Linked DNA regions of Homo sapiens. The protein of the gene in region 1 interacts with the protein of each later gene in a pairwise test. Each region holds a gene or a part of one and is shown in the gene's direction. Other genes may lie near its edges. The genes, in order: ADAMTSL4, HGF, LGALS14 and ALPP.

Region 1 (7,622 bases):
TGTTGGCCAGACTGGTCTCAAACTTCTGACCTCAGCGATCTGCCCACTTCGGCCTCCCAAAGTGCTGGGATTACAGGCTGGATGAACATCTACTTATTACATAATCTTTTTAAAAACGTCTCTCTTTTTTTTTTTTTTTTTTTTTTGAGACGGAGTTTCACTCTTGTTGCCCAGGCTGGAGAGCAATGGTGCAATCTGAGCTCACCGCAACCTCCGCCTCCCAGATTCAAGTGATTCTCCTGCCTCAGCCTCCCAAGTAGCTGGGATTACAGACATGCGCCACCACGCCTGGCTACTTTTCTATTTTTAGTAGAGACAGGGTTGGTCAGGCTGGTGTTGGACTCCCAACCTCAGGTAATCCGCCCACCTCAGCCTCCCAAAGTGCTGGGATTACAGGTGTGAGCCACAGTGCCCGGCCTTAAAAACTTCTTTTTAAAAATTATTTATGTATTTGTTTATTTTTGAGACAGGGTCTTGCTATGTTGCCCAGGCTGGTGTCAAATTCCTGGGCTTAAGCAATCTACCCACCTCAGCCTCCCAAAGTGCTGGGATTACAGGTGTGAGACACCGCACCCAGCCTAAAAACTTTTTATCCTGGAGACAGTGTCCACAAACTTAATCTGGTATTTCACAAGTTGCTGAGGCATAGGAAACTCTTTTCTTTCTACAATATTTTCAGACCACCAAGCCATGAGAGGTGACAGCAGTAGCAAATCTCATGAGCTCTTCGGTGAGCAGCCATTTCTTAGTGGAAAGGACTGTATCTGACCTTCAGTTCTCAGCAGTTACAAATGTCAAAGGCAGACCTTTTCTCTCCTCCCAGGCTCCCCTCCCACACTCCTGTCCTGCAGCTTCCCTCCCTGTAGATAAGTGAATGCTGATGAGGTGTGACTGGGCCAGGACTGAAGGGTCCCTGGCCCAAAATATCTTCCTCTGCCCGGAAGGCTGGGCTTCTCATCATCTATATCATACTCTGAGGTCTGGGGAAAGGGGCTTCCCCTTCAAAGCTAGCACTATAAATATGTCTCCAGGTTGTCACCAGGAGTCCCTAGATAAACCACCCCTCTGGGAGGGGCATTAACCTTTTATCTTCTCAACCCATGTAGGAACTCAGGACTCAGATGGAGGATGAGGAGAGGCACCTCCCAGAGGCGCAGGTCAATCTGACCCGCTTCATGTTTCGTGGTGTACTTCGTGTTTTCAAGTTGTTGTTGTTGTTTCAGTGACTTATCAAAAAAACAAAACTCTAATATAAAATAGGAAAAAGTATAGATGATACAAAGTAGCATAAATAGTCCTTTATTCTGAAAGAACTTAGTGATTTACCGAGAAAAAATATGCATGTTAAATTTCAAATAATGATACAATTCTTTTTCTCCTTTCTTTTTTCTTCTTCTTTTTTTTTTTTTAGATATGGGGTCTTGCCATGTTGCCCAGGCTGGACTTGAACTCTTGGCCTCAAGTGATCCTCCCACTTCAGCCTCCCGAATCGCCAGGACTACAGGTGCCTGCAATTGTACCCAGCTCGGGACACAATTCTTACATTTTCTTTTCTTTTCTTTATTTTTTTGAGGCAGAGTCTCGCTCTGTCACCTAAGCTGGAGTGCAGTGGCATGATCTCAGCTCAATGCAACCTCCGCCTGCCAGGTTCAAGCAATTCTCCCTGTCTCAGCCTCCTGAGTAGCTGGGATTACAAACGCCCACCACCACACCCGGCTAATTTTTGTATTTTTAGTAGAGATGGGGTTTCGCCATGTTGGCTAGGCTGGTCTTGAACTCCTGACCTCAGATGATCCGCCCGCCTTGGCCTCCGAAGGTGCTGGGATTGCAGGCATGAGCCACCGCGCCCGGCCCAATTCCTACATTTTGAAAGCATTTTACGTTTTCATATCCATCATCTTCTTAGAGATAACATCTCCTTCAGCTGAGCCCAGTATTAACCTTCGCATGACCCCATTACCTGCCGTGTCTGTGCCTGATCAGACCCAACTCCTTGAGGCCAGAGACTTCTTGCTGCTTCTTCAACACCAAGTGCAAAAGGCGCCCAAAAAATGACAGGTGGGGAACCAAAGACCTCTGATATTTTGTGAGGATGCAGGACAATGTTGTTAGAGCTTCTATTTTTGTGTTTTAGTTTTTCAAGAGAAATTTTAAAATATCCAGGTTTTAAAATACGTATTGACAAGTTATTTAAAAAAAAAAAATGTGCCTTTAGGTTGGGCCCAGTGGCTCACACATGTAATCCCGGCATTTTAGGAGCCCAAGGAAGGAGGATTTCTTGAGCCCAGGAGTTTGAAACTAGCCTGTCTTAAAAACAAAAAACAAACAAACAAAAACCTTTAAAACACTGAGTAGACCCAACAAAATACAACGCGTCAGTAAATAGAAAGTAAAAATATAGGCCGGGAGCAGTGGCTCATGTCTGTAATCCCAGCACTTTGGGAGGCTGAGGCGGACGGATCATGAGGTCAGGAGTTCGAGACCAGCCTGGCCAACATGGTGAAACCCCATCTCTACTAAAGATACAAAAAATTAGCCAGGCGTGGTGGCTCGTGCCTGCAATCCCACCTACTCAGGAGGCTGAGGCAGGAGAATGGCTTGAACCCAGGAGGCAGAGGTTGCAGTGAGCTGAGATGGCGCCATTGCACTCCAGCCTGGGTGACAGGACAAGACTCCTTCTCAAAAAAAAAAAAGTAAAATATAAAAATAGCAGTGACCATTTATTGTCTACTCTATGCCAGCCATTTTACATATTTTATTTATTTATGTGTTTATTTTTTGAGACGAGGTCTCTCTCTGTCGCAGGGGCTGGAGTGCAGTGGCACGATCATAGTTCACTGCAGCCTCAAACTCCTGGGCTCAAGCAATCCTCCCCGCTCAGCCTCCTGAGTAGCTAGGACTACAGGCTTTCACCACCATGCCCAGCTTACATATATTATTTATAATAAATAATAGCCAGGCGCGGTGGCTCACGCCTATAATCCCAGAACTTTGGGAGGCCGAGGCAGGAGGATCACTTGAGGTCGGGAGTTGGAGGCTAGCCTGACTAACATGGAGAAATCCCGTCTCTACTAAAAAATATAAAATAAGCCAGGCATGGTGGCGCATGCCTCTAATCCCAGCTACTTGGGAGGCTGAGGCAGGAGAATCACTTGAACCTGGGAGGCGGAGGTTGCAGTGAGCCGAGATCGCGCCACTGCACTCCAGCCTGGGCAACAAGAGTGAAACTCCATCTCAAAAAAAAAAAGAAAAAAAAAAGATAAAACTAATAGATGGATTGCTCTTGTGGTTAAAAAAATTCACAAAAATAACATTACATAGCTGGGTGCGGTGGCTCACGCCTGTAATCCCAGCACTTTGGGAGGCCGAGGCGGACGGATCACGAGGTCAGGAGATCGAGACCATTCTGGCTAACACGATGAAACCCCGTCTCTACTAAAAATACAAAAAATTAGCCGGGCGTGGTGGCAGACGCCTGTAGTCCCAGCTACTCAGGAGGCTAGGGCAGGAGAATGGCGTGAACCTGGGAGGCGGAGCTTGCAGTGAGCCAAGATAGCACCACTGCACTCCAGCCTGGACGACAGAGTGAGACTCCGTCTCAAAAAAAATAAATAAATAATAATATAATAATAATAAACATAACGCAGAGTAAAAAGCAAAAGCCTTTTTCAGTCCTCCCCCAACCCTGCATCCCTCCCCAGATGTCACCAATACTACTGAGTTTGGGGTGCATTCTTCCATGTATAAATGCATAAAGAGACATATCCAAGCCCATCATATATATTAGATTAGTCCCATTTTGCAGATGAGCAAACTGCACCACACAGGGGTGGAAGTATTCGTCGAAGACCACATAGCTGGCAAGAGCTGGAGCTGAGGTTCAAATCCAGATCAGTCTGACTCAGAAGTCAGCACGCTGTCCTTTCGCTGAGTCCCGAGTGTAAAACCTTACTGAGGAAAAAAACCGAAGCTCATAGAAGTCCCAGCAATCTGAACCACCACTGCCCAACACGGGAGAGGCAGGAGTGACTGAGTTTGCAGGGGAGGCTGCGTGGAGGGGAGAGCCTGGACCCACGCGGATCGGGGGCCGCGGGTACCTCCGTCCAGGGCGCTTCCCTCCCGGACCAGCGGCTCTCCCAGGCCGCCTCGCTCCAGGCGCCCCTGGAGGCTGCCCCGCCTGTGCCGCGCCGCGCCGCGCCGTGTTCGCACCGCTCACCCGAGCGGCTCGGAGGCCCGGGTTGCTTAAGTCCCTAGTCTCAGCCGGGCACGAGGACAGCGCCCGGGAGCGACTGCAGCCTCTGACCCCGGCTGGGCCAGCCCGGGCTGCTTAAGTCCCTAGTCTCGGCCGGGCACGAGGACAGCGCCCGGGAGCGACTGCAGCCTCCGACCCCGGCTGGGCCAGCCCGGGCTTCAGCTCACGCAGCCGTCGGGGGGCGCCCGGCGCGCAGCCCGGGGTGGGTGGTCCTGGCGAGTGGGGCTGCGAGGCAGACCGGCCCCACCCCGGGGCCGCCGAGGGGCGCGGGCTGGGGCGCGTGGCGGGCGGGGCTGGGCGGGGGCGGGCGCGAGGGCGGAGTTGCGGCCGAGGCGGCCGTGACCGGAGCGCGGCTCAGGGGCCCCAGTGGCCGCCGCGGAGCGAGGTTGCCTGGAGAGAGCGCCTGGGCGCAGAAGGGTTAACGGGCCACCGGGGGCTCGCAGAGCAGGTAGAGACCTCCCCGGGACCCCGGCCCCGGCCGCCCCTCTCCCGGGTCCCGTTAGACCGCCCGCCCCGCGCGCCCGCGTCGTCCCCTCTCCCTGCGCTGTGCGGTCGCGACCCCGCCACGACCCCGGACCCAGCTCCGGTGGCCTCGGACAATCTTCCAGCCCCTGGGGTCGAATTCCTGGGGAGGGAGTCTGATCCCGTGGAACTCTGGCCCCATCACCCGGGCGGGGAGTGAACCAAAATTCCTCCTAAGTCACATAGTAAAGTTGGAAAACAGACCCATGACCTCCCCGCGCGGCCGGTGCCTCCTGCCCTCTCTCTAGGAGGGTGCTCTCGGACGGTGTGTCCCCCACTGCACTCCTGAACTTGGAGGACAGGGTCGCCGCGAGGGACGCAGGTGGGTGCCCTTGATCCAGCTCAGCCCGATGGCAGAAGAGGTTGACAAAAAAGAAAGACACCTGTTGGGGTGGCCTGCCAGACCCAGGAGTGGAGGGCTCTGAGGGCCCGGGAATTCGGACTCAGGACAGGGATTCTCCATGGCTAGGCCCAGAAACACAGGGTCCAACCACTCTCCAGCAGGGAGACCTGGGGGTGAAGGGGTGAGCCCTGCGCAGGTCTCTGTTCCTTGGTCTTCACTGGGCAGTGTGGAGAGGTGTGGCCAGGAGGAGCCCGCGTTTGTCCAGACCAGGGTCTACTCTGGCACCAGAGTGACCACCTCTGACCTCTCCTTTCCTCGTCCTGGGCCGGGAACGACACCAAATGAGGGACATGGAAAGGGGTGAGAAGCATAAATGTGCGTGTGTTTCTGCAGAGGAGGGGGCATGGGCCCCTGCCGGGCTGCGCAGGGGAGGGTGGGGTGGGACTTTTCCAGAGAGGGAGCCAGGCCTGGCCCGGGCCCCGGGAGCTCACGTCACCCCCACCCCTCACTTCTCCAGGGAACTGCCAAAGCCAAACCCAGCTCGGGATGGGATTATGTGTACTGGGTAGACCCGTGGAGAGGGGCTGCGAGAAGAGATCTCGGTGGCAGAGAGAAGCAGAGGCAGAGAGGGCATGAAGAGGGGTCGGCATCAGAGAAGGGGCAGGCAGTGACTATCACCCCATTTCTTCTTCCCTCAGCTGGAGTAACAAGAGTCAGGCAGAGCCTGAAGACTTGGGTGGAACATGGGCCCTTCTCTGGAGATCCTGGCCTCCCCCGTTCAGTCAGGGTGGAGTTGCTGACCTTAGTGGCCGGCCCAGCCAGGGGAAGGAGTGGCCATCGGCAACCCCCACCCCAACCCCAATCCCTGAGGCGCCCGCTCTGGCTCAGCCACTCTGACCCCTCCCTCAAATTCCGAACCCTAGGTCTCAGGGAGGGCAGTGGGGCTGAGTGTCTGCCCCCAGGCACATTCCTACCCTTCTCTTGGTCATTTTCTGCCCCAGAGCTGGCCCACCTCAGCAATGCGAGGGCTCCCTGGATTCCTCTCCCGGGTGCCTTTCAGATCCAACAGAAACAGATTTTTTTTTTCCTGGAAAGCAGAACTAAGAGTGGGATGAGGAGCAGGGGTGGGAAGGACTCAAAGTGAGAAGAAGGGGGCAAAGAGAGTCAGGCTTGGTGGCTGGGGTGGCTTCCAAGCCTCACTTCTCCAGTGTTCAAAGCTGAACTTCAGATGGACTTCCCGGCTCTTCAGAATGAGAGGCCTGTGGCTGGGGCATGAGGCAGCCCCGGCTGCACCTCTCCTTCCCGCTTCCCCAGCTGGTAGAGACGCACAGGAAACAAGCCCTCACTGAACCAACTCCAGATGCTGGCACCCAGAGTGGGTGTTACATTGCCGGCTTCTTCTCTAGAGATTAAACCGTCAACCCATTTAGCTTATCCCTTGGCCAAAAAGTGTATGAGATGTGCCTGGATGTTCCCTAAAGAGCTTATCTAAGAAGGGAAGAGAAAGCCGGGAGGCAAGTAGGACAGAGAGATGACTGGGGAAGGTCTTGTGTCTGGAAGACCCAAGGAAGGGGCTTCTGGTGGGTCCTCAGAGAGAGTGTCTGGCGCATCCTCAGTGGAGCCTTCCTCCTCTACTTTCTAGGCACCTCTGGGAGGGCAGGAGTGGGAGCAGATGACAACCATTTTAGAAGGAGCCCTCTGGCTGGGTGCGGTGGCTCACACCTGTCATCCCAGCACTTTGGGAGGCCAAGGCAGGAGAAGCGCTTGAGGCCTGGAGTTCAAGACCAGCCTGTGCAATTTAGCTGGATCCCATCTCCACCAAAAAATACCAAAATTAGCTGGGTGTGGTGGTGCACGCATGTAGTCCCACCTACTCAGGAGGCTGAGGAAGGAGAGCCTGTGAGTTTGAGGCTGCAATGAGCTTTGGTGGCACCACTGCCCTCCAGCCTGGATGACAGAGTGAGATCTCCATCTCAAAAAAAAAAAAAAAGCCTTTTGTGTGTGCCTGAGCCGGCTTAGAAACAGTCCCTAGGTAGGATTTGGGGAGGAGCTAAGAAGCCCCTACAGGGCCCAGAGGTGGGGACTGAGCCTTAGTTGGAGGGCTGAGGTCAGCCCCTGACCATGTAGCCTCTACAGATGGACAAGGCAGTGATCCTCCCTGCTCCCACCCTGAGGATCCTAAAGGGATGGACCAGTTTCACCCCCTCCTCCATATTCTCTGAGCTGTCCTCCCAGCCCCAAGCTCTCTGGACACTGGAGAGGTAACCACCAGGCTTCTGTCCCTGCAGAGAGCACCCTCCACGCCCAGATGCCTGCGTAGTTTTTGTGACCAGTCCGCTCCTGCCTCCCCCTGGGGCAGTAGAGGGGGAGCGATGGAGAACTGGACTGGCAGGTGAGAGAAGGGGCCACGGGTTGGGGGGGAGGAAAAGGGGAGGTGCTGGGATGGCTCTGTGTCTGGAAGTGAGGGAAAGGGGACCACTGGGAGGGGCAGGGGAAGTGATGAGT
Region 2 (7,563 bases), on another chromosome or scaffold:
ACGTACGTTCTTACAAGCATCACTTGTGGAGAAACCTGGGCTTAAGACAAAGAAAGATACCGTGTTAAAGCAGCAGCCTTTTAAAGAGCACAGTAATAGAGGCTTTTCCATTAAATCCATCTAGTATCCATGAGATACTAGAACCCTCAATCATAGGACAGATTTAAAATGGTATTATAGGGTAATGAGTATCCATCTAGTATTTAAGTATTTACATAAATTGCAGTACTTAAAGTAATCTCTTTACAAGTTATTTTATCAAAAACTTTTCAGACACAATTTTTTGGGGATTTATTCAAACTGTTTAACACTTAAGAAGTACTGGCTTACCTTGGAGATACTGCTCGTTTGGTTTCAGACCACTGTGATCAAGCAAAAATCGCAATAAAGCAAGTTACATGAATTTTTTTTTCGTTTCCCAGTGCATATAAAAGTTACACAGCAGACTATTAAGTGTGCAACAGCATTATGTTTAAAAATGTCCATACCTTAACTTAAAAATACTTTATTGTTAAAAAATGCTAACGATCATATAAGCCTTCAGCGAGTGATAATCTTTTTGCTGATGGAGGGTCTTGCTTGATGTTCAGAGCCTTGCTGTGGCTTTGGCTTAAGGCTTAAGGGAATATTGCAGCTGGTTTGATCTTCTATCTAGACTGCTCAAATTTTCTGCATATCAGCAATAAGGCTGCTCTGCTCTCTTATCATTTGTGTGTTCACTGGAGTAGCACTTCTAACTTGCTTCAAGAACTTTTCTTTTGCATTTGCAACTCGGATAACTGGTGCAAGAGGACTGGCTTTTGACCTAACTCATCTTTGGGCATGCCTTTCCCCAAAAGCTTAATTTATTTCTAGCTTTTGATTTCAAGGAAGAGACGCGCAACTCTTCCTTTCACTTGAGTACTTAGAGGTCATTGCAGGGCTATCAATTGGCCTAATTTCAATAATGTTGTGTTTTAGGAAATAGAGAAGCCTGAGGGGAGGGAGAGAGACGGGTGAACAGCTCGTCAGTGGAGTAGTCAGAATACACACATGAATGGATTAAGTTTGGGTTGTGGTTTGTGGTGCCCAAAACAATTATGGCAGTAACATCAAAGATCACTGATCACAGATCATCATGTAAAATAATAAGGAAATATTTGAAATATTGCAAGAATTACCAAAATGTGACACGGAGACACAAAGTGAGCACATGCTGTGGGAAAAACGGCACCAACAGACTTGCTCAATTCGAGGACACCACAAAACTTAATTTGTAAAAACACATTATCTGTGAAGTACAATAAAGTGAAGGGCAATAAAATGATGTATGCCTATGTAAGGCAATCAGTAGATGATGGGAAAAAAACATTGCATGATTTAGAAAAAACAAAGAGAATATGTTATCAAAATGACTAAACTAATAGCATAATTAGAATTTCATTTGAGTATTTCTTTATAGTTTTGAGAGATTTAAAATTATGTATTATTTTATAAATTATTATGGAGGATCTCCTATATACCCAGTCTCAGACTTATTTTGGTGATTATACTCTGGAACATGTGATTCTTCTCCTCGTGGGGTTAAAAAAATTTATACCATCCTATGGGGTATGACTAATCTGAATCTCACACTTGAATATTACTTTGGGATCTTAGGCAAGTTATTTAAGAATAAAAATAACTTACTATGTTTCCTCAACTATAAAATGAGAATTTTAATAATCTTAAACTTACTGTAAGGATGAAATAATTTTCAATAGTATGTAATATGATGCTTAGCATACATTAAGATCTCAGTGTATATTAGCAACAATTTCAGTAAAGAAAGACCAAATAATTTTTGTCAAGAAATATGAATATATAAATTATATAGGTTTTAAGTTGTATTTACCATATTTAATGTGACAGTAAAAAAAGTCACGAAAATGTGTGACCTAATAAGTTTATTCAGTTTTCTAATGTCCTGAACCCCTTATCTCAGATGGATTTTGCTCCAAACTTATAACAATAATTTACAACCCTGACTCTAGTTTTTTTTTCTGAGAGAAAAAAATAAATAGAAACACTGTTCTTTTTCTTTCCTTACCTACAGGAATTTACTTACAGAAAAATCTAACTTCTTTTAAAAACAGCCTTAATCCCTTGTTGGGCCAAGGGAAAACTTTTCCATTGTTCTCTGAAGGTTTGCTAAAAAAAAAATTACTGTCAAGAGGCAGATCAATAGAAGAAAAGGCATACACATTTATTTGATCATAATTTTACACAACCCGAGAGCCTTTAGAACAAAGACCCAAAGTTACAAAAGAAATTGTCCATTTTTATGCTTAGGTTCAACAAAGTGTGGGCAGGTGTGGAGAAATACAACTGGACAAAAGGAATATGATCTCATGCTAACAGACTGAGTGGGGACGCCTGGCAAGGTGAGATTCTTCCTGGTATCTCTGTGCAGTACTCATTCCTTCTGGGTATGGGGCAGGACCTTCTTTGGAATGGGGTCTTATGAGCTACGATCAAACAAGGTAGGTCAGATAATGTCTTTATGGCCAGATTTCACACAGAAAGTTGAGGTGTTAGAGTGATATGCTTAGGTTTTATGGCTGGTTTGGGAAAAAGGGTTCTGGTTTCTAGGAGCCACCTTGGGAAAGAGGGATTCTAGTTTCTATGCCTCGCCTTGGGGGAGAATGAAGGGCCGGAGACTGGAGAGCAGGAGAAGGTCAGAGAGAGCTGATTCTGAGGTCTTCATTTGGGGTATCATTTTTCTGAGCCCCTACACCCTAATAAAGCACAAGAGATGCAGTGGAGCAATTCAGGGTCACGGTCAGGCTATGCATTGAACTGAGATTTCCCAAAAAGTCTACTGAACAGTAAAAAGAAAGTAAAATGGATCCTGGGGACACCAGACAGAGGCTGACAAATGATTTTTAAGTAAGGAGAAAATGATAAAAGAGAAGGATTAGCAATAGAAACGGGTCATATAAAATAGATCCCTCAAAAGGAATTCTCTTAATCCCTAGCTTCTCTAGATATCCCACAACCTCAGGGACTTATCAGGCAGGTTGTTTTTCCCTGAAAGTGGGGGTAAGGGAGCTGGAGGACAAATGAAGGTGGTATGTGGAGGGAAGGCTGTTCTGTGGATGAGTTTAATTCAGCCCCACAATCACTTCTGTACAGCTACCCACCGCTCTAGTCATTCCCACATTTGGCCTGCTTTCTTTTCCTCTGTGGACAGGGGCACTGTTCTCTACTAATATCCATCTCAGAGAGATACAGGGGCAAGTATCCCTCAGCATCCATTAGAAATAAAGCAGGCTCTTGCTTAAAGTTACCAGAGCATCCACCTCTGGGTGCAAAGACAAATTCTCTGAATCAAGTGAGGGGTCTGGGCAATGATCTCACAAGGATTTGATACCTAGGAGTCCCCCCATGCCCATACAAGCTCCTCATCTTTCCACTTACACTTTGGGAAGCTGGCTGTCGTGTACAGGCAGATGAAGCTGGAAAAGAGAGGCATATTCAGTACTCACGAATTCAAACAGCTTGAGGGATTTCCGGTGAAAGTCAGTCCTAACCAGTGTATACGTACATACACACCAACATGTGTGAATGTGTTGTGTGCACGTGTGTGCCTGTACAAGTCCACATGGCATATTTACCTGTCAGGGACAGGCTATGGACAATGACTGTTTCTTGGACTTTCTCTTAAAAAGTCAGATCAGACAAGTTTATTTTGTATACTTTGGGTAAATGTGTGGTATTTCGTGAGTTTGGCAGTTTGTGAAAAAAAAAAAAAAAAAAAAAAAAAAAAAAAGCTGCCTGCTCTGAGCCCATGGGGCAGGGGCAATTTTTTCATCTGACAATCTGCGTGCTTTTGTTTTGCTTGCTTATTTTGGCCCCACAATACCACACCCTTTTCTTAACTAACCTCTTTCTACCTGGGCTGGACGTGCCTGGGCTCTCCTCCCTGGCCCCGCTCCCACCTCTCCCAGGTCTCTAAACCCCTAGAGAACCTGTGTCAGTGTTTTGAATCCCTCAGTTGCTCTAGCAGGAAAACTAGACAGATTAGGAGCTGGGGCACATTTGGCTGAAAGACAGCTCTTCGCTTTCTTCTTATGCTGCTTCCCCTTCCTCTTTTCCCAAATAGATATATAAACACATGTATTTTCCTGTTTAAATTGAGCGAATTGGTCCCCTGCCTGTGCCTTGATTTAGCCATTGGGCTCAGCCTTGCTCCTCCCTTCCTTACTCGGATAGGAGCCACTGGGATCTGGAGCTCCAGCTTCCAAATTGAAGCTGGCCTCAGGCCAGGTGACCTTTTCTTTGTAAGTTTCTTTCCTAAGCGTGGGGTTGGGGGGAGGCGGGGAATGGGGGGGGTTGCAGGGATCTGTTTGGTGCTGTTGAAGGGGGGGCGAGTGAGGAAAGGAGGGGGCTGGAAGAGAGTAAAGGGCTGTTGTTAAACAGTTTCTTACCGTAAGAGGGAGTTCAGACCTAGATCTTTCCAGTTAATCACACAACAAACTTAGCTCATCGCAATAAAAAGCAGCTCAGAGCCGACTGGCTCTTTTAGGCACTGACTCCGAACAGGATTCTTTCACCCAGGCATCTCCTCCAGAGGGATCCGCCAGCCCGTCCAGCAGCACCATGTGGGTGACCAAACTCCTGCCAGCCCTGCTGCTGCAGCATGTCCTCCTGCATCTCCTCCTGCTCCCCATCGCCATCCCCTATGCAGGTTAGTTCCCTTCTTCTTCTTCATTATTAGTATTAGTATTTAACTCTCCTGCTAACCTTCCCTATTCCTTTTAACACCCTCTTTTTACCCTATTCCCAGCATCCTTTCTGAACTCAGTATGTAGTATAGGTTTCTAAAAGCTCTCATTATGCTTTTTTTGACATTCTTTTTTGTTGTTGTTTGAATAGCATTTAAAATGATAATTAACTTTCCCTCAACTCCCCTCCACCTCCAACCCAAGCCCCGTCCCACTTAGCCTAATAGTTGTGGATTATGAGATAGGGAGGAAGTGCTAATACTGGCTGAACTTGGCTGCTTTGGACAAGTTTAAAGCTAAAGAGAGGGTCTGGTCTGAAGAGGCAAGAGTGATGGTCAGTCCGGCAGGAAGTCATCCTTTTCCAGAGAACAATTTTTCATGATAATGCACTACTCCACATCACCTAGTCAACATTTGGAGCCAAATTACGACTTTGTACAGGTTTTCATTTTGAGGAGGCAGAATAAACTCTGAGTATTTGCATATCATAAAAATGAAAGAGAAAGCCTCTTTTTAAAGATCTTATTCTTTCTGGGTACGGATGCCTGCCCTTTGAAACTGCAGTGCACGGAGACTTTGATTAAAGCTGCAGAACTGCCCATCTCTGTCTCCCACTTTCTCCCTTGGATTTGCCGTTTGGGGAGGAGTTGCTTGAAAGTTCATATTGCTTGGAGATTTAGAGATCTCGTTTGCTGCTCTGGGAAGTTTCTCTTGTTATCAGGGCAAGAGGAAACATCTGTATTTTGTTGTATCATTGTAGAGGCTGAGGTGCCAACGGGAGAAGGCAGTGAATATCAAGGGTAGGCGCAGGGGAATAAAAGAGTGGGAACAAATGCCCAGATGGAGACATGGCCTTTTTACAATATAAAAAAGAGAACTGGCTGTATCTTTTGAGATGGTAAATATGACATTTATCAGACCTTTGATCTAGTTTTTGATATGGTACAAGGGTTAAAAAACTCAAGAATTTTCTAAATGCAAAGGAAAATCATTCAACCCACCTGGTTTTCTTTTATTTTGTGAAGTGGCCCGTTTGGAAAATGACACTGTTTGGAAAGGGTCACTCTGAAAGCATTTAGGTAAGATTTCTGAAGAAGTGAAAAAGCAGTGAGTTCAAATCAAGCAGGTTATCATGCTTGACATGTGTCATGTTAAAATCGCTTCACAGGGTCGGGTGCGGTGGCTCACGCCTGTAATCCCAGCACTTTGGGAGGCCGAGGCGGGCAGATCACGAGGTCAGGAGATTGAGACCATCCTAGCTAACAAGGTGAAACCCTGTCTCTACTAAAAATACAAAAAATTAGCCAGGCGTGGTGGCAGGCACCTGTAGTCCCACCTACTTGGGAGGCTGAGGCAGGAGACTCTCTTGAACCTGGGAGGTGGGGGTTGCAGTGAGCCGAGATTGTGTCACCGCACTTCAGCCTGGGGAACGGAGCAAGACTCCATCTCAAGAAGAAGAAGAAAAAAATGCTTCACAGATGACTGCTGGTTTAGGGGATTTTGAGCTTAAATTGAAATAATGGCTAATATTTTGAGGGTTTTCATTTTTAAAGATTAAAATGTCACTGTTCTTAAGTAGAATCTGGTTACCTGAATTCATCTGTGCTAACGCAAGGGGAACGCAGTGTGGAAAACCCAAACAGTAGATCAACCGTAGGCAGTGTCTATTTGTTTTCGGCATGCATTATGAACTTTTGGCAGGAGACATACATTTGTAATTATATTTCACTTTGCCTAATGTAGAAATGACTGTGTTTCCTGAGTACAGGCAGAATGCAGCCCAAGAGTGCTGGCAGGCAAGGAGAGTCCAGTTGGGAATTACAAATATGCTGTGAATAATTCCTGAAGTGGATAATTCTAAAATTGTCATCAAAGGAGGGTGCGCCTTTGTTTAGATGGCCAGTTTGATAGTTTTTTTTAATAACCTTTAAAATAAAAAATATGGGTAGCCTCTTAGAACACACAAAGTTTGTTCTTTTTTAAATGACATTTAATATTGACTATTTAGAGGTTTCTTTTGTTGTTACTAGCTTTGATTATAATTATTTATTCTATGAATTTATATTTGTATGTATTGTAAAATAACACATTGTTAGGAAAGAAGTATATACTGTAAGTTGACAACCAGTTATCAACAGAATACACTATGGAGATACTTTTTTAAAAGCTTAAGAAATATTCAATATAATGGGCCCCCGCCATCTTTGTAGGAGTTAGCCTATATAGAATTACCCTCTATTCACTCCCACCTACATGGGAAACAAATATCCAATCCTCTGTAATAAAAGAAGCATTAAATGAGCACCTAATATTCAAGAGTATGTGGGGGATGTAAAGATGAACAAATAAGAAAGGAACTTAAATTTGTTGAGCAACTGATATGAACCAAGTAGTAAAGTACATCTCACTTAATTCTAATAAGATTGGCACTATTGGACTCATTTAGCCGGTTCAAAGACCTCAGTTATCTTATTTCTTTGTGAGTTAAGGGACAGAGCTGAGATTTCTACCCAAATGTATGTGAATGAACTATGTGGTGTTTTTTTTTTTTCTTTTTTCATTTATATTGAAGCGAGCAGCAGTGAAATCAACTGAAATTTACTTAAAAAAAATCATTTGGCCAAGTGATATATTTTCAAAAAACCCTGTTAGAAATACTTTGTACTATGGTTGAGAGTTCATTTTCAGCATAGAGAATCAAACCAGGTGAAGGGGTTATATGGTACTGAAGTCCATATGAAAAGATGGATGGTAGAATAGTCAGTATCTTAGCACAGGATCACAAGTGGCCCAAGGTACAGAGGTTCGTAAGTATAAG
Region 3 (7,230 bases), on another chromosome or scaffold:
TACAAAACACTGCTTAAAAAAGTAGAGAAGACCCAAACAAATGGAAAAACATTCCATGCTCACAGATAGCAAGAATAACTATCATTAAAACAACCACATTGCCCAAAGAAATGTACAGATTCAATGGTATTCCTATTGAACTATCAATAACATTCTTCACAGAATTAGAACAATCTATTTTAAAATGAATATTTTAAATATTAATTGAACCGAGTGGGTTGAATAAAAGATATTCCAAAGCAAAAAGAACAAAGCTAGAAGCATCACATTACCCAACTTCAAGCTGCACTATAGGGCCAGAGTAACCTAACAGCATAGTACTTGCATAAAAACAGACACATAGACCAATGGAACAGAAAAGAGAGGCAAGAAGTAAGGTCCCACACCTACAGCAATCTGATCTTTGACAAAGTTGACCAAACAAGCAATGGAAATAATTTTTGGATAACTAGCTAGCCACGTGCAGATGATTGAACCTGAACCACTTTCTTGCGTTATATAGAAAAATCAACTGAAGATGGGTTAAAGACTTAAATGTAAAACCCAAAACTATAAAAACCCTGGAAGTCTACCTAGGCAGTACCATACCGAATGTAGAAATAGGCAAAAGATTCCTGACAAAGATGCCAAAAGCAATCACAAGAAAAGCAAAAATTGACAAATGGATCTATTTAAACTAAAGAGCTTCTGCACAGCAACAGAACCTATCAACAGAGTCAACTGACAACCTACAGAATAGGAGAAAATATTTGCAAATTATGTATCTGAAAATTGTCTAATATCTAGCTTCTATAAGGAACTTTAACAACTTTACAAGAAAAGAACAAACAACCCCATAAAAAAGTGGGCAAAGGGCTGGGTGCAGTGGCTCACGCTTGTAATTCCAGCACTTTGGGTGGCTAAGGTAGGTGGATTGCTTGAGTCCAGAAGTTCAAGACCAGCTTTGGCAACACGGCAAAACCCTATCTCTATGAAAAATAGAAAAATTAGCTGAGTCTTGTCTCAGGCACCTGTAATCTCAGGGACTCAGGAAGGTGAGCTGGGAGGATCGCCTGAGCCCAGGCAGAGGTTGCAGTGAGACGAGATTTCACCACTGCACTTCAGCCTGGGTGTCAGACCAGGCTGTCTCAAAAAAAGTAGACAAAGAACAGGAACAGATACTTCTTAAAAGAAGACATACATGTGGCCAACGAGCATATGAAAAGAAGCTCAACAGCCCTGAACGTTAGAAAAATGCAAATCAAAACCACCATGGGATACCATCTCTCACCAGTCAGAATGGCTAGTATTCAAAAGTCAAAAAATAACAGAAACTGGCAAGTTTGTGAAGAAAAGGGAACACTTACACATTTTTGGTGGCAGTGTAAATTAGTTTAATCATTGTGGAAAGAAATGTGATGGTTCCTCGAATGGCTAAAATAGAACTACCATTCAACCCAGCTATCCCATCACTGAGTATATACCCAGAAGAATATAAATCATTCTACCATAAAAACGTGCACATGAATGTTTATTACAACAGTATGCACAATAGCAAAAACATGGACTCAACCTAATAGCTCATAAAGGACAGACTGGATAGAGAAAATGTGGTACATATACACCATAGAATACTATGCAGCCTCAAAAAAGAATGAGATTATGACTTTTGCAGGAACATGGATGGAGTTGGAGGTCATTAACCTTAGTGAACCAATGTGGAAATGAAAAACAAAATACTGCATGTTCTCACTTAGAAGTGTGAGCTAAATGATGAGGCCCATGGATACCAAGAGGGAAACAACACACACTGAGACCTACTTAAGGGTGGAGGGTAAAAGGTGAGACAGGAGCAGAAAAAATAACTATTGGGTACTAGGCTTAGTACCTGGATGTGAAATAATCTTTACCGCAAACCCCATGACACGAGTTTCCCTGCATATGTACCCCTGAACATAAAATAAACGTTTAAAAAACAAAGAAAAAAACCAATGTCACCTTTCTTCTGGAATCTGCAGGAGAAACAGTGTCTCTGAAACTTTGATTCACATGGACATCAAGAGAAAGGAGAGAGTATTGCTAGAGTCCAGGTGTGGGACAGACAGATGAGAGCAGCCCTCACCTGGTAGAGCCAAAGGGCTTAGCATGGGGCAGGTTCATGCAAGGACGTTCTCTACCTCCCCCCCGGATCATCCTGAGGATCAAGGGCAGTGCTGTCCCAGAATCTTTAAAGGCAAAAAGAACAATTTAAAGGCAGAATGTATGATCTGTAGGTGTCTCTTTCCAATAAGTGTGGGGAAGAGGAATACAGACTACGGGGGTACTGGTCCCTTAGGTGAGGTCTGCACAGCTGGTATGCAGTACCAGCTACTCAGGATACTGAGCTGGGAGGATCACCTGAGCCCAGGAGCCAGAGGTTGCAGTGAGCCAAGATGGAGCCACACCACTCCAGCCTGAATGTCAGAGTGAGACCTGTCTTAAAACAACAACAAAAGGCGAGAAAAGACAAGAACAGAGAACAGATACTTTTCTTTTCTTTTCTTTTCTTTTTTTTTTGAGATGAAGTCTCACTCTGTCCCCCAGGCTGGAATGCAGTGGCATGATCTTGGCTCACTGCAAGCTCTCCCTCCCGCATTCATGCCATTCTCCTGCCTCAGCCTCCTGAGTAGCTGGGACTATAGGCGCCCGCCACCGGCCCGGCTAATATTTTGTATTTTTAGTAGAGACAGGGGACGCTTCTCAAAAGTACACATACAGGTGGCCAACAAGTATATAATAAAAGCTCAATATCACTGAACATTAGAGAAATGCAAATCAAAACTACAATGAGATACCATCTCACACCAGTCAGAATGGCTCTTCTTAAAAAGTCAAAAAAGGACAGATGCTGGCAAGGGTGTGGAGAAAAAGGAGCACTTACAGATTATTGGCGGTGGTGTAAATTAGCTCACCCATTGTGGAAAGCAGTGTGGTGATTCCTCAAAGAGCTTATAACAGAACTACCATTAAACCCCGCAATCCCATTACTGGGAATGGTGTATACACTACTGTATACACAGAAGAATAGAAATTATTCTGCCTTAAAGACATATGCATATGAATGTTCATTGCAACACTGTGCACAATAGCAAAGACACAGAATGAACCCAAATGCCATCAAGGACAGATTGGATACAGATAATGTGATACATATACACAATGGAATACTATGAAGCCCTAAAAAAGAATGAGTTCATGTCTTTTGCAGGAACATGGATGGAGCTGGAGGCCATTATTTTTAGCAAACTAATGCAGGAACAGAAAACCAAATACTGCATGTTCTCACTTATAATTGTGAACTAAATGATGAGACTCATGGACACCAATAGGGGAACAACACACACAGAAGCCTACTTGAGGTTGGAGGGTGAAAGGTGAGATAGGAGCAGAGAAAATAACTATTGGGTACTACGCTTAGTACCCAGGTGAAGAAATCATATGTACCACAAACCTCATGACATGACTTTATCTGCATATGTACCCCTGAACCTATAATAAAAGTAAAAAAAAAGAAAAAAGAAAAAAAATCTCATCTTTCTCCCAGAATCTGCAGGAGAAACAATATCTCTGAAACTTTGTTTTACATGGACTCCAAGACAAAGCAGAGAATGCAGCTAGAGCCCAGGTATGTGACAGACAGATGAGAGTGACCCTCACCTGGCAGATCCAAGGGGCCTAGTGTGAGGCAGGTTCATGCAAGAACTATCTCTACTTCTCTTCCCAGATCCTCCTGAGGATCAAGGTCAAAAGGATCTGACCCTTAAAGGCCCTCCCAGAACCTTTAAAGGCAAAGAGAAGAATTACCTTCTAGGTCTAACGTCTTTTTCCAAAATTCCCAATTTTTTATTTTTAGTCATTGTACAAATTGAGGAAATGTACACCTTCTGGCTAGATTCTGCATACTGGAGAAAAAGCTTGAGAGGCACAAAGGCTGGGCTTTACAATCCCTACCCCTCACTCCATCATCCTTATCTATGCATTTCCCTGGTAACCCAATCCACAGCCTGGTACCTCCCCCACTGTCATTTCTGCTGCATTACAGACACAGACCTGCAAACATCTATGGTTGTGACAGAGTTTCTTTCTGACACCTGAGTCTTTCTCCTGCTGCACGGAAAGCTTGCTGGGAGGGGCTTGGAATCTGGCATGAAGCCAAAGGGCATCTCTGAGTTGCAGCATTTAAATGATCCCACTCAGAGATTCACACAGAAGACTGGACACAATTCCGAAGAGCTGCCCAGAAGGAGAGAACAATGTCATCACTACCCGTGAGTTGAAAAGTCACAGCCTTCAATAATCTCAAGTCACATAAACCAAGAAAGAAACAGGGGAGGTTTTCTGAGTTGAAAATATGAGCATTCCTACTGTGAATGCATTACCGAGAGTTGTGGGTGTGTAGAAGAGAAACCCTGAGGCTGTGGTATCTGAGATGATTGTGGGTGTAGGCTGTGGACCCTGGACCAGTGTAACCCTCTGTGAGGGTGTGGTGGTGTCTGATGAGAGTGAACTCTGCTGAGATTAAGTGACTTTAGGTGGGAGGTGGATGACCCACCAGGACCGGCAAGTGTGTGAGTGAGTGTAAGGGGGTGAGTGTGCTTTGTCTTCCTGTCTGTGATGTGAGTGTGTGTGGGCACAGCCAGACCAGTGCATGGTCATCTTTATGTGCACAGTGAGCAGGTGTGTGTAACTCAGTGAGTGGCATGGCTCTGTGTGACTATGGGTGTGTGTGCTGGGATGTGACTGGGTATTGAAGGGAAAACATGCACGTGGCCTTCTGTGCATGTGAAGGTTCCTCCCCACACAGCAGCACCTCTGATGAAGCACCTGTGTGTCTTTTCATGTGTGGCAATGTGGATCCCAAGTGGCTTAACTGGTGGGGATCTTGGGGATTGTGAGTTACCAAGGACTCGTTTCAGATCACTTATGAGAGCGAAATATATCATCAGTAGATATCTCTTCCCAGTAAGAGTGAGGAAAAGGAACGCAGATTATGGGAGAGATGGTTCCTCAGGTGGGGACTGCACAGAGTGATCACTGGCTTTTGCCTCCCAGGCTCAGCTTCCCTGTCGCTAGCCCAGCCTGTTCTTCCCATTGTGGAACAGGCGAGTGTGAAGATACTGATTTGCCAGGGAAGAATATTAGAGGCCGTGGTTAAAGAGACGGAATCAAACAAAATATCCACTGTAAGCTCTGTCTGAACTGAGACTAAACTTGTTCCTCCACTCATGAAAGAACAAGCTGTCTGAATTCAGACAGTGCTTACTGTGGACATTACTCAACAAAGCAGCTGGGTTCACTGGTTCATGACTATAATCCCACCAATTTGGGAGGCAAAGATGGGAGGGTAACTTGAGGCCAGAAATTTGAGACCGGTCTAGGCATCATAGTGATATGCTTTCTTTAAAAATCTTTAAATATCTGACTGGCAGAGTGGCAGACACCTTTCACCCCAGCTACACAAGAGGGGGCAGATGTGTGAGGATCACTGCAGTCCAGGAGTTCGATGTTTCAGTGAGCTGTGATTGCACCACTGCATATCAGCCTGGGTGACAGAGCAAGACCCTATCTCAAAAATACAGAAAAATCATCAACCACTTGCAGTCGTCGTAGAAATCAATCATTCCCTCCAGTTATGTCCCTGACCCACAGGCTTCATTTGTGCAAGTACTGGGGCTGTGCTGTCAGTAATGTGTGCCGCTTCTGGGAAGGACGTCCATTGCCCTTGATGATTGTGGTGCGTGTACATCCCACACACAGGGGTTTCCTGTTCTTTCGTCATTTCCCTTTCTCTTTCAACAAGTGTTGTTTCTCACTGGAGTGAATTTTTAAATTCTTTCACCCTCAAGTCTTGTTTTCATTTTCTGAGTTGAAAATAAGGCAGGTCAGTGTTTCAGGAGGACTCCCCTGTTCTGTTAGGTCACCCCTAATTGACCCTATACATGCCAGGGATTAGGGTAAAAGTTTTACCTATATTAACTCCTCTATTACTGAGAACACCCTACAAAGTAGGAATTCCTGATAGTCCTCCTTGTCCTGGGGAAACTGAGGCAGGGAGAGGTTAAGTAATAGATCTAAGATTGCACTGCTAGTATAAGGCAAAATGAGGACTGGAATCCAGGCATCCGGGCTCTTGAACAATTGCTCTTACCTATGGATCCACCATATCTTCAGGAATATGGGGCCCTGACTGTGGTAGGGTGAAAGGGGAGAGGCCTCAGAGTCTGACCTTTGATCTCTAACCTCCTGCACCATGGGAATCTGTTACATAGGGGAGGTTACACCTTACCCTTTAGCTCTCACTCACTCTCCATACCCTGGCAGGTACCATACACACTGCCTGTTTCCTTGCCTGTTGGTTCGTGCGTGATAATCACAGGGACACCGATCCTCACTTTTGTGTGAGTACTCCATGGTCCAATGGAGGGGGTGGAGGAGAGAAGGGAGAATATTTGCTAAGGGTTTAACCTTATGTGTGAGTGATGTGGAAAACTCTAGTTGGCATAATGAAGGCCTCATGCAAGTGCAGGCCCTGGAGACCTTCCAGCAACAGACATGAGACCTGTAGAAACTGCATGCAGGCCAGCCACGGAACCTAGGGGAGGAGAACACTCAGTGGGTTTGGGTTGTGGCTCTTTATTAAAGGGCATAGAATTTTCAGGAAATGAACAAGTCATAGGCCCATGTCACTGACTGGCGCTCAGTTTTTGTCTGGGGATGAGGAACACAGCATCTCCCTGCCTGGGGGCATGAGGAGCTAAAGCGTCCCCACAGGGACCAGGACTGCAGTATCATCGGGGAGACTTTTTGCCCTGGGTAAAGGGGGGAAGGGATTTGTGTGTGTGGCGAGTGTGTGTCTGCACAATGGGGGGACCTGCCCAACATGCTGTGTGCTTTGACCTCAGCAAGGACCCACAGCTGGAGGTGAATTTCTACACTGGGATGGATGAGGACTCAGATATTGCTTTCCAATTCCGACTGCACTTTGGTCATCCTGCAATCATGAACAGTTGTGTGTTTGGCATATGGAGATATGAGGAGAAATGCTACTATTTACCCTTTGAAGATGGCAAACCATTTGAGCTGTGCATCTATGTGCGTCACAAGGAATACAAGGTGAGTACTTCAGGATCTTCCAGCGCTGGAGCTCTGTGGGCTCTTAGAGCAGGAGGCAGCTTTCATTGACCTGGTGCCACCAGTCCCTTGGGGCCCATC
Region 4 (7,715 bases), on another chromosome or scaffold:
AGACTTACAAACAGAAGCTATGTCTGGGTCTCAGGTGGCAGTGAGACAAGATGGTAGCTTTACCCCCCAAGACCAAGGGCCACAGGGGAGGGGTGACCTCAAAGGGATGTGTAGGACAATTGAAATATGATAACATCAAAGTTGTTTTGTCCTAAGGGCAGGATTTATGGGAAGTAGGTGCTCCCGCACTAGAAACACGACATGAATGGGAAATCTCAGAGGCCCTCCGAGAACTGGCATTCATCAACCTGGTAGATCAGGCCCCAAGATGGAATTGCCTTGACACCCACACCACCTGAAATAATCTGGAGTACTGTTGGCAGCTGATGTGAGACTTTGGTTCTTGTCTTCTTAGCTTAAAATAATTTAAACAAGAGACACAACAGCAAAGGAGATGCAGCATACAATAATTTTTGCAAAAGAAAAAGAACATCTTGAAAGTGAAGTGCAGAATAGGCAGAGAGAAGAATTCAGGGCAGGCTGCTCATAAAGATGAGACAGCAAAAGTTGGCACTAGGGAGGCTCCCTTTATGGAAATCTTACATGATTATTCATGAGGGGTTGGGAAGAGGTGTTGCTAGTAAGCATGTTCTGGCCAAAAGCTATTAAAAGAAAAGGAGTGTCAAAAAATTTAGGCCGTGCTGGGGGTGGAGGCTCACACCTGTAATCACAGCACTTTGGGAGGAGAGGCTTAAGCCCAGGACTTCCAGACCAGCCTGGGCAACATGGTGAAACCCCATCTCTACCAAAAATGCAAAAATTAAATGGGCAAGGTGGCACACACCTGTAGTCCCCACTACTCGGGAGGCTGAGGTGGAAGAATCTCTTGGGCCCAGGAGGTTAAGGCTGCAGTGAGCCGTGATTGCCCCACTGCACTCCATCCTGGGCTACGGAGCAAGACTCTGTCTCAAAAAACAAAGTCAATGGTTCCCTTTGGTGGGGAAGGAAGAAGTGGGGTTTGAATGGGGGGCAGGGTACATATGGGGAGATCCTGGCTGTAGTCAATTTCTTGATCTGAGTGGTATTACTTTGGCGTTCAATTCTGTAACTCTTCTTTAGGCCATATCTTTCTGTTTTCTGCAGTTTTAATGTTTGACATATCTCAAAAGGAAAGAAAGAAAAGGAAGGAACAAGCTTGCCATTTGATCCAGATTAGATGCAACTGTTCCAGCTGCGTTTTCCATTTTCATCTCAGCCAGTATTTTTCAAAATGTGACATGCACGTATTTCCAAAGGGCGGTACTGAAACAGGATAGGTAATCAAGGAAGTGACCGTGTTCTTGGGATGCAGCAAGCGTGGTGACCGCACAGTCAACACAATAAGCCTCAGCATTCGAATTGTAATTGAGCTCATTCAAGCAAAGCTATCTTCAGTGGGGACTTTTCTTTCTAGAGAGCATGCGCATTTTGATTTTACCTATCCTCAAACTGACCCTTTGCTCATTATAATAGTAAAAAGCGCACCCCGGGTGGAGATTTAAGAAGCTAATGAGACCTGCGACATACGAGCCAGCATGTACAGCTACTCACGCCTGTAATCCCAGCGCTTTGGGAGGCCGAGGTGGGCAGATCACTTGAGGTCAGGAGTTCGAGACCAGCCTGGCCGACATTGTGAAAACCCATCTCCGCTAAAACTACAAAAATCAGCCAGGCGCAGTGGCTTACGCCTGTAATCCCAACACTGTGGAAGGCCAAGGCAGGTGGATAGCCTGAGGTCAGGAGTTCGAGACCAGCTTGGCCAACATGGTGAAACCCCATCTCCGCTAAAAATACAAAATGAGTCAGGTGTGGTAGCAGGTGCCTGTAATCCCAGCTACTCGGGAGGCTGAGGTGGGAGAATCCCTTGAACCTGGGAGGCGGAGCAGTGAGCAGAGATCTCACCAGTGCACTCCAACCTGGGCGACAGAGCGAGATTCCGTCTCTAAAACAAGTAAATAAACAAAAATAAAAAAATAAAAATACAAAAACTAGCTGGGCGTGCTGGCGGGCGCCTGTAATCCCAGCTACTCAAGAGGCTGAGGCAGGAGAATCGCTTGAACCTGGGAGGTGGAGGTTGCAGTGAGCTGAGATTGCGCCACTGCACTCCAGCCTGGGGGACAGAGTGGGACTCCATCTCAAAAAAATAAAAATAAATAAATAAATTAATTAATTAATTAATAAAATAAAATAGAAACAGGGTCTTGCTATGTTGCTCACTATGTGGTGAATTTTTTCAGGTGCTGAGCAAGACTGGAGACCAGACACACACCAATGTCACTTGCAGTAAACAAAGGATATTTGTCCACATTCAAAGTCTATGGTGACACCCTGGCCACATGGGGATGCTTGGCCACCCTGCCTCCTACCTTCATGCCAGAGTCGCCTGTCATAATGTCTGGTTACAGCCCTTCCTCTGAGGTCCAGGGATTTCAAAGCAGAAGCAGCAGGTCTTCCCCGGCTGGAGGAAGAGCCAAAGCCTCCATTCCTGGGATTCTTGGTTGCTGTTACCTGGGGCAAGGGGAGGCCCAGGCTGTGGCGTGTATTCTCAGAGGATTGGTCGTCTTGGTCCTTCTGTTTCCTGGGAAGGAAGGGCTGGTCCTGTAGGGCCCCATCTAGATCCCTTAGCACCCTCTACCACCTGATGCCCTTGGGGATACCAAGCTCTGTGCAGTCCAGACCATGTTCCAGCTCAGTGCCCACCTTACAGGCATGCGCCACCATGCCTGGCTAATTTTGTATTTTTTAGTAGAGATGGGGATTATCCATGTTGGTAAGGCTGGTCTTGAACTCCCGACCTCAGGTGATCCACCTGTCTTGGCCTCCCAAAGTGGCCGGGCAGGGCTGAATTCGCCCCCTCACCAGCTACTGCCAACCACGGATGAATGGCTTCTGCCTGCCTCCTGCCCTCCAGATCTTACCAGGGCATTTCACTGGGAAATATGGCAACAGCCCTTGCCACTCAGGGGACAGCATGGCAGGGGCTGGGAACGAATGTTGTTGCCAAACGACAAGACCCAGCTGGGCCCAGTGGCTCACACTTGTGATCCCAGTGGTCTGAGAGGCTGAGGCAGGAGGATCACTTGAAGCCAGGAGTTTGAGAGCAGCCTGGGCAACACAGTGAGACTCTACAAAACAAAACAAAAAAAATTAGCCAGGCATGGTGGCTGGTGCCAATAAGCCCAGCTACTGGGGAGGCTGAGGCTAAGGCTGAGGCAGTGAGCCATGATCATGCCACCGCAGTCCAGCCTGGTGACAAATGAGACCCTGCCTCAAAAAAAAAAAAAAAAAAAAAAGAGGAAGGTGAGCGCAGTGGCTCATGTCTGTAAATCCAGACACTTTGGGAGGCTGAGGTGGAGGTTCGAGACCAGCCTGGGCAACATAGCAAAACCATGTCTTTACACAAAATAAAAAATGAGTCAGGTGTGGTGGCACATGCCATTGGTGCCAGCTACGTGAGAGGCTGAGGTGGGAAGATTGCTTGAGCCTGGGAGGTCCGAAGCTGCAGGGAGCCGTAACTCAGGCATCACACTCCAACCTGGCTGACAGAATGGGACCCTGTCTCCAAAACCAAAAGATTCCAGCTCGAAAAATAATTGTGGGGTGGCGGCAAAAGCTCCTGACTGGCCTTGACTTTAGAGTGAATCAATGAATTAATTAAGGGCCTGCCTGTTAGTGAGTCTCCTCTGAAATTTAGCCCAGAAATTTCCTAACTCAGCAAGATGAAGCAGGAGGTAGAAGGAACTAAGGGGGCAATAAGCAGGAGGAAGGAATGTCCCCATGAGGGTGACATCTTCCCTGAGAGCCCCAGGACGACCAGCAGGAAGCCAGGCGGGGGGCAGGCAGGAGGACTCCAGAAAGCTCGGCCTGAGGGGAGGCCCGTGGGGGTGGTGGGGAGTGGTGCGGGGAAGGCAGAGGCTGAGCAGCAGGTGAGGTCCCCTGGGTTTTGGGGGCCAAGCCTGGGGCTCGGGGCGAGCAAGCATGAGTGGAGAAGGGGCTGCTGTGGTTGGGCTGGGGTGGACTCCCCACCTGCGTCGTCCAAACATTAGTGTGAGTGCACCCACACAAACACATACACAATCACACACAACATGTGAGCAATGGGCAGGACTGGTCCGGCCCCACTCAGTGCTGTCACCATTGGCCCCACAGCTGCCCACAGCCCTAGAGCTCTGGGCCCAGATTCCTGCCAGCCCCACCTGTCCAGGCCAAGGTAAGATGATGGAGCAAGGGGGTGCCAGGGCAGCAAAGCCCCCCACGTGCCCCTTTCCCACAGGGCCCAGGCTCCTGGCATCAGGAGGCTGAACCCAGGCCCTGGCCCAGACTGTGTGCTTCCAGCCTCCCCTCCTCTCGACACCAGAACACAGCCTGGCCCCAGCTTCTGGGAAATATAGAAAAAAATGGGTGAATGATCCAGTGACAGGGTGTCTTGTTCCACACAAGACACAGTGAGCAGGGGTTGGGGGAGGGGCTCCTGGCTGCGGGAGGCACACCACACTCACCCAAATGGCATCTGTACTCAATACCGCACCCTTCCCTGGGGGACACCTGGTCCCAACCTGAGCTGCCTTTCTCAGGACCCCAGCCCCAGCCCGGCCCAGCCCAGCCACACCCTGCCACTCCCTTCAGCCAGTGTGGCTTCAGGTCAAGAGGCTGGGCAGGGTCAAGGTGGCAACGAGGGGAGAAGCCGGGACACAGTTCTCCCTGATTTAAACCCGGGCAGCCTGGAGTGCAGCTCATACTCCATGCCCAGAATTCCTGCCTCGCCACTGTCCTGCTGCCCTCCAGACATGCTGGGGCCCTGCATGCTGCTGCTGCTGCTGCTGCTGGGCCTGAGGCTACAGCTCTCCCTGGGCATCATCCCAGGTAATGAGGCTCCCCGAGCTGCCCCTACACAACACACACACAGGGCACCCCCCAGCCCAGGCTGACCTGATTTTTGCTCTCCCCCTGGCCAGTTGAGGAGGAGAACCCGGACTTCTGGAACCGCGAGGCAGCCGAGGCCCTGGGTGCCGCCAAGAAGCTGCAGCCTGCACAGACAGCCGCCAAGAACCTCATCATCTTCCTGGGCGATGGTGAGTGAGCCAGGCCTTCCAGCCCTGCAGCCCTCACAGCCCCGGCGCCCGGACCCTCAGTGGTTCCAGGAGAGCCCTGGGGCCCAAGCCTCACACATTTCTGTTCCTTCAGGGATGGGGGTGTCTACGGTGACAGCTGCCAGGATCCTAAAAGGGCAGAAGAAGGACAAACTGGGGCCTGAGATACCCCTGGCCATGGACCGCTTCCCATATGTGGCTCTGTCCAAGGTAAGTGCTGGGCTACCTTAGAGTCCTCCAAGCACAGAAGGGGAATCCTGGCTATGGAGTGTGGTAGGAGGGAGGGACCCTAAACAGCTGGGGCTCCAGTAAGGAGTTAGAGGCAGTTGGAATCCCAGAGGACAGAGATCAGGGTCTGGGTCTCCGTGTCTGCCCCAGAGAAGAGCTCAGAGTGTCTCTGTCCCCAGACATACAATGTAGACAAACATGTGCCAGACAGTGGAGCCACAGCCACGGCCTACCTGTGCGGGGTCAAGGGCAACTTCCAGACCATTGGCTTGAGTGCAGCCGCCCGCTTTAACCAGTGCAACACGACACGCGGCAACGAGGTCATCTCCGTGATGAATCGGGCCAAGAAAGCAGGTGAGCTGGGGCCCGCTGCTGGGTCACGGCCAGGTCACAGACGTTGGTCACATATACTGACCTCTGACACCCTTAGGGAAGTCAGTGGGAGTGGTAACCACCACACGAGTGCAGCACGCCTCGCCAGCCGGCACCTACGCCCACACGGTGAACCGCAACTGGTACTCGGACGCCGACGTGCCTGCCTCCGCCCGCCAGGAGGGGTGCCAGGACATCGCTACGCAGCTCATCTCCAACATGGACATTGACGTGCGACCCCCAGGCCAAGGGCTGGGGCTGGGCAGAGAGTAGCAGGGAGGGGGCACTAGCTCAGACCCAGGCAACCAAAAGCCTTATCTGGGCCAGCAGGGTCTGGAGGTGGGGTTGTGGGCGTAGAAGGTGCAGCCCAGGCTGGGCCATTCCCACAGCCTTGGGGAGGGGAGTCAGGGGCTGTGCATGAGGAGGGGGCACGGGGCCAGCCAGGGCCCCAAATCCACCTGCCCCATCCTCTGTTCCCAGGTGATCCTAGGTGGAGGCCGAAAGTACATGTTTCGCATGGGAACCCCAGACCCTGAGTACCCAGATGACTACAGCCAAGGTGGGACCAGGCTGGACGGGAAGAATCTGGTGCAGGAATGGCTGGCGAAGCGCCAGGTGATGGGGGCTGGCGGGTGCAGGGGGCACAGCAGGGGGAGGGCAGAGGTGTGGGGCTCAGGGCTGTGGGCTGAGGCCTGGCTCTCTCCCTCCCCACAGGGTGCCCGGTATGTGTGGAACCGCACTGAGCTCATGCAGGCTTCCCTGGACCCGTCTGTGACCCATCTCATGGGTAATGACCCCCTTCCTGCCCTGGCATCCCTCAGATGGCCTCAGATGGCACCTTCTGAGCCTGTGTGCACATCCGCCAGCACCCGCCCACCCCCAGCCTGCCAGTCACCACAGGACCCCTTGTCCCACAGGTCTCTTTGAGCCTGGAGACATGAAATACGAGATCCACCGAGACTCCACACTGGACCCCTCCCTGATGGAGATGACAGAGGCTGCCCTGCGCCTGCTGAGCAGGAACCCCCGCGGCTTCTTCCTCTTCGTGGAGGGTGCGTGGTGGCCCCTGGGGAGTGGGGGTTGGGGGTTGGAGCAGGGCAGGCTCAGCATCTCCCCCCTCTGGCCTTCCTGCAGGTGGTCGCATCGACCATGGTCATCATGAAAGCAGGGCTTACCGGGCACTGACTGAGACGATCATGTTCGACGACGCCATTGAGAGGGCGGGCCAGCTCACCAGCGAGGAGGACACGCTGAGCCTCGTCACTGCCGACCACTCCCACGTCTTCTCCTTCGGAGGCTACCCCCTGCGAGGGAGCTCCATCTTCGGTAGGCCTGGGGAGAGTGGCAGGTGCTGCTGCAGCAATTAAGTGGGTGAAATCTGAGCCTCAGTCTCCTCCTCTGTCAAATGGGAGTAATGCTGGCACCAGCCCTGTAGGGTCTCCTGAGGACTAAGCCCCTGACCAGGCAAAACGTGGCGGTGCCTAGCACGTGGGAGACACTCCACAGCTGTGTTCAGCTCAACCACAGGGACCCCTCTCTCTGCAGGGCTGGCCCCTGGCAAGGCCCGGGACAGGAAGGCCTACACGGTCCTCCTATACGGAAACGGTCCAGGCTATGTGCTCAAGGACGGCGCCCGGCCGGATGTTACCGAGAGCGAGAGCGGTGAGTGCCGCGGGGTGGCCCCCTGAGGGGGACCAGGGTGCCAAGGATGGGGGGCTGGCGGGAAGGGGTCACCTCCTGTCTGCCTGGAACTGAATGAACCCTCCTACCGGAACTGAACCCTCCAACCAGGGAGCCCCGAGTATCGGCAGCAGTCAGCAGTGCCCCTGGACGAAGAGACCCACGCAGGCGAGGACGTGGCGGTGTTCGCGCGCGGCCCGCAGGCGCACCTGGTTCACGGCGTGCAGGAGCAGACCTTCATAGCGCACGTCATGGCCTTCGCCGCCTGCCTGGAGCCCTACACCGCCTGCGACCTGGCGCCCCCCGCCGGCACCACCGACGCCGCGCACCCGGGGCGGTCCGTGGTCCCCGCGTTGCTTCCTCTGC

The links.
Region 2: the proteins of ADAMTSL4 (region 1) and HGF interact in binary tests that used the Homo sapiens proteins (3 or more experiments, as listed by UniProt).
Region 3: the proteins of ADAMTSL4 (region 1) and LGALS14 interact in binary tests that used the Homo sapiens proteins (3 or more experiments, as listed by UniProt).
Region 4: the proteins of ADAMTSL4 (region 1) and ALPP interact in binary tests that used the Homo sapiens proteins (3 or more experiments, as listed by UniProt).

What each region holds. Positions count from the first base shown.
Region 1 is NC_000001.11:150,544,800-150,552,421, forward strand, and holds the start of ADAMTSL4 (ADAMTS-like protein 4 isoform 1 precursor), read left to right. Parts: upstream 1-4,608; 5' UTR 4,609-4,700; intron 4,701-5,022; 5' UTR 5,023-5,096; exon of another isoform or gene 5,097-5,477; intron 5,478-5,490; coding exon of another isoform or gene 5,491-6,261; exon of another isoform or gene 6,262-6,477; coding exon of another isoform or gene 6,478-6,492; exon of another isoform or gene 6,493-7,405; coding exon of another isoform or gene 7,406-7,489; coding exon 7,490-7,509; intron 7,510-7,622. Other genes in the region: uncharacterized protein LOC124904417, read left to right, coding at 5,491-6,261. UniProt on the Homo sapiens protein: Positive regulation of apoptosis. May facilitate FBN1 microfibril biogenesis.
Region 2 is NC_000007.14:81,767,029-81,774,591, reverse strand, and holds the start of HGF (hepatocyte growth factor isoform 1 preproprotein), read left to right. Parts: upstream 1-4,544; 5' UTR 4,545-4,620; coding exon 4,621-4,708; intron 4,709-7,563. UniProt on the Homo sapiens protein: Potent mitogen for mature parenchymal hepatocyte cells, seems to be a hepatotrophic factor, and acts as a growth factor for a broad spectrum of tissues and cell types.
Region 3 is NC_000019.10:39,700,258-39,707,487, forward strand, and holds the start of LGALS14 (placental protein 13-like), read left to right. Parts: upstream 1-4,223; 5' UTR 4,224-4,271; coding exon 4,272-4,286; intron 4,287-5,447; exon of another isoform or gene 5,448-5,650; coding exon of another isoform or gene 5,651-5,752; intron 5,753-6,339; coding exon 6,340-6,416; intron 6,417-6,920; coding exon 6,921-7,131; intron 7,132-7,230.
Region 4 is NC_000002.12:232,374,037-232,381,751, forward strand, and holds the start of ALPP (alkaline phosphatase, placental type preproprotein), read left to right. Parts: upstream 1-4,714; 5' UTR 4,715-4,766; coding exon 4,767-4,842; intron 4,843-4,908; exon of another isoform or gene 4,909-4,934; coding exon 4,935-5,051; intron 5,052-5,163; coding exon 5,164-5,279; intron 5,280-5,476; coding exon 5,477-5,651; intron 5,652-5,727; coding exon 5,728-5,900; intron 5,901-6,149; coding exon 6,150-6,284; intron 6,285-6,383; coding exon 6,384-6,456; intron 6,457-6,586; coding exon 6,587-6,721; intron 6,722-6,803; coding exon 6,804-6,995; intron 6,996-7,214; coding exon 7,215-7,331; intron 7,332-7,460; coding exon 7,461-7,715. UniProt on the Homo sapiens protein: Alkaline phosphatase that can hydrolyze various phosphate compounds.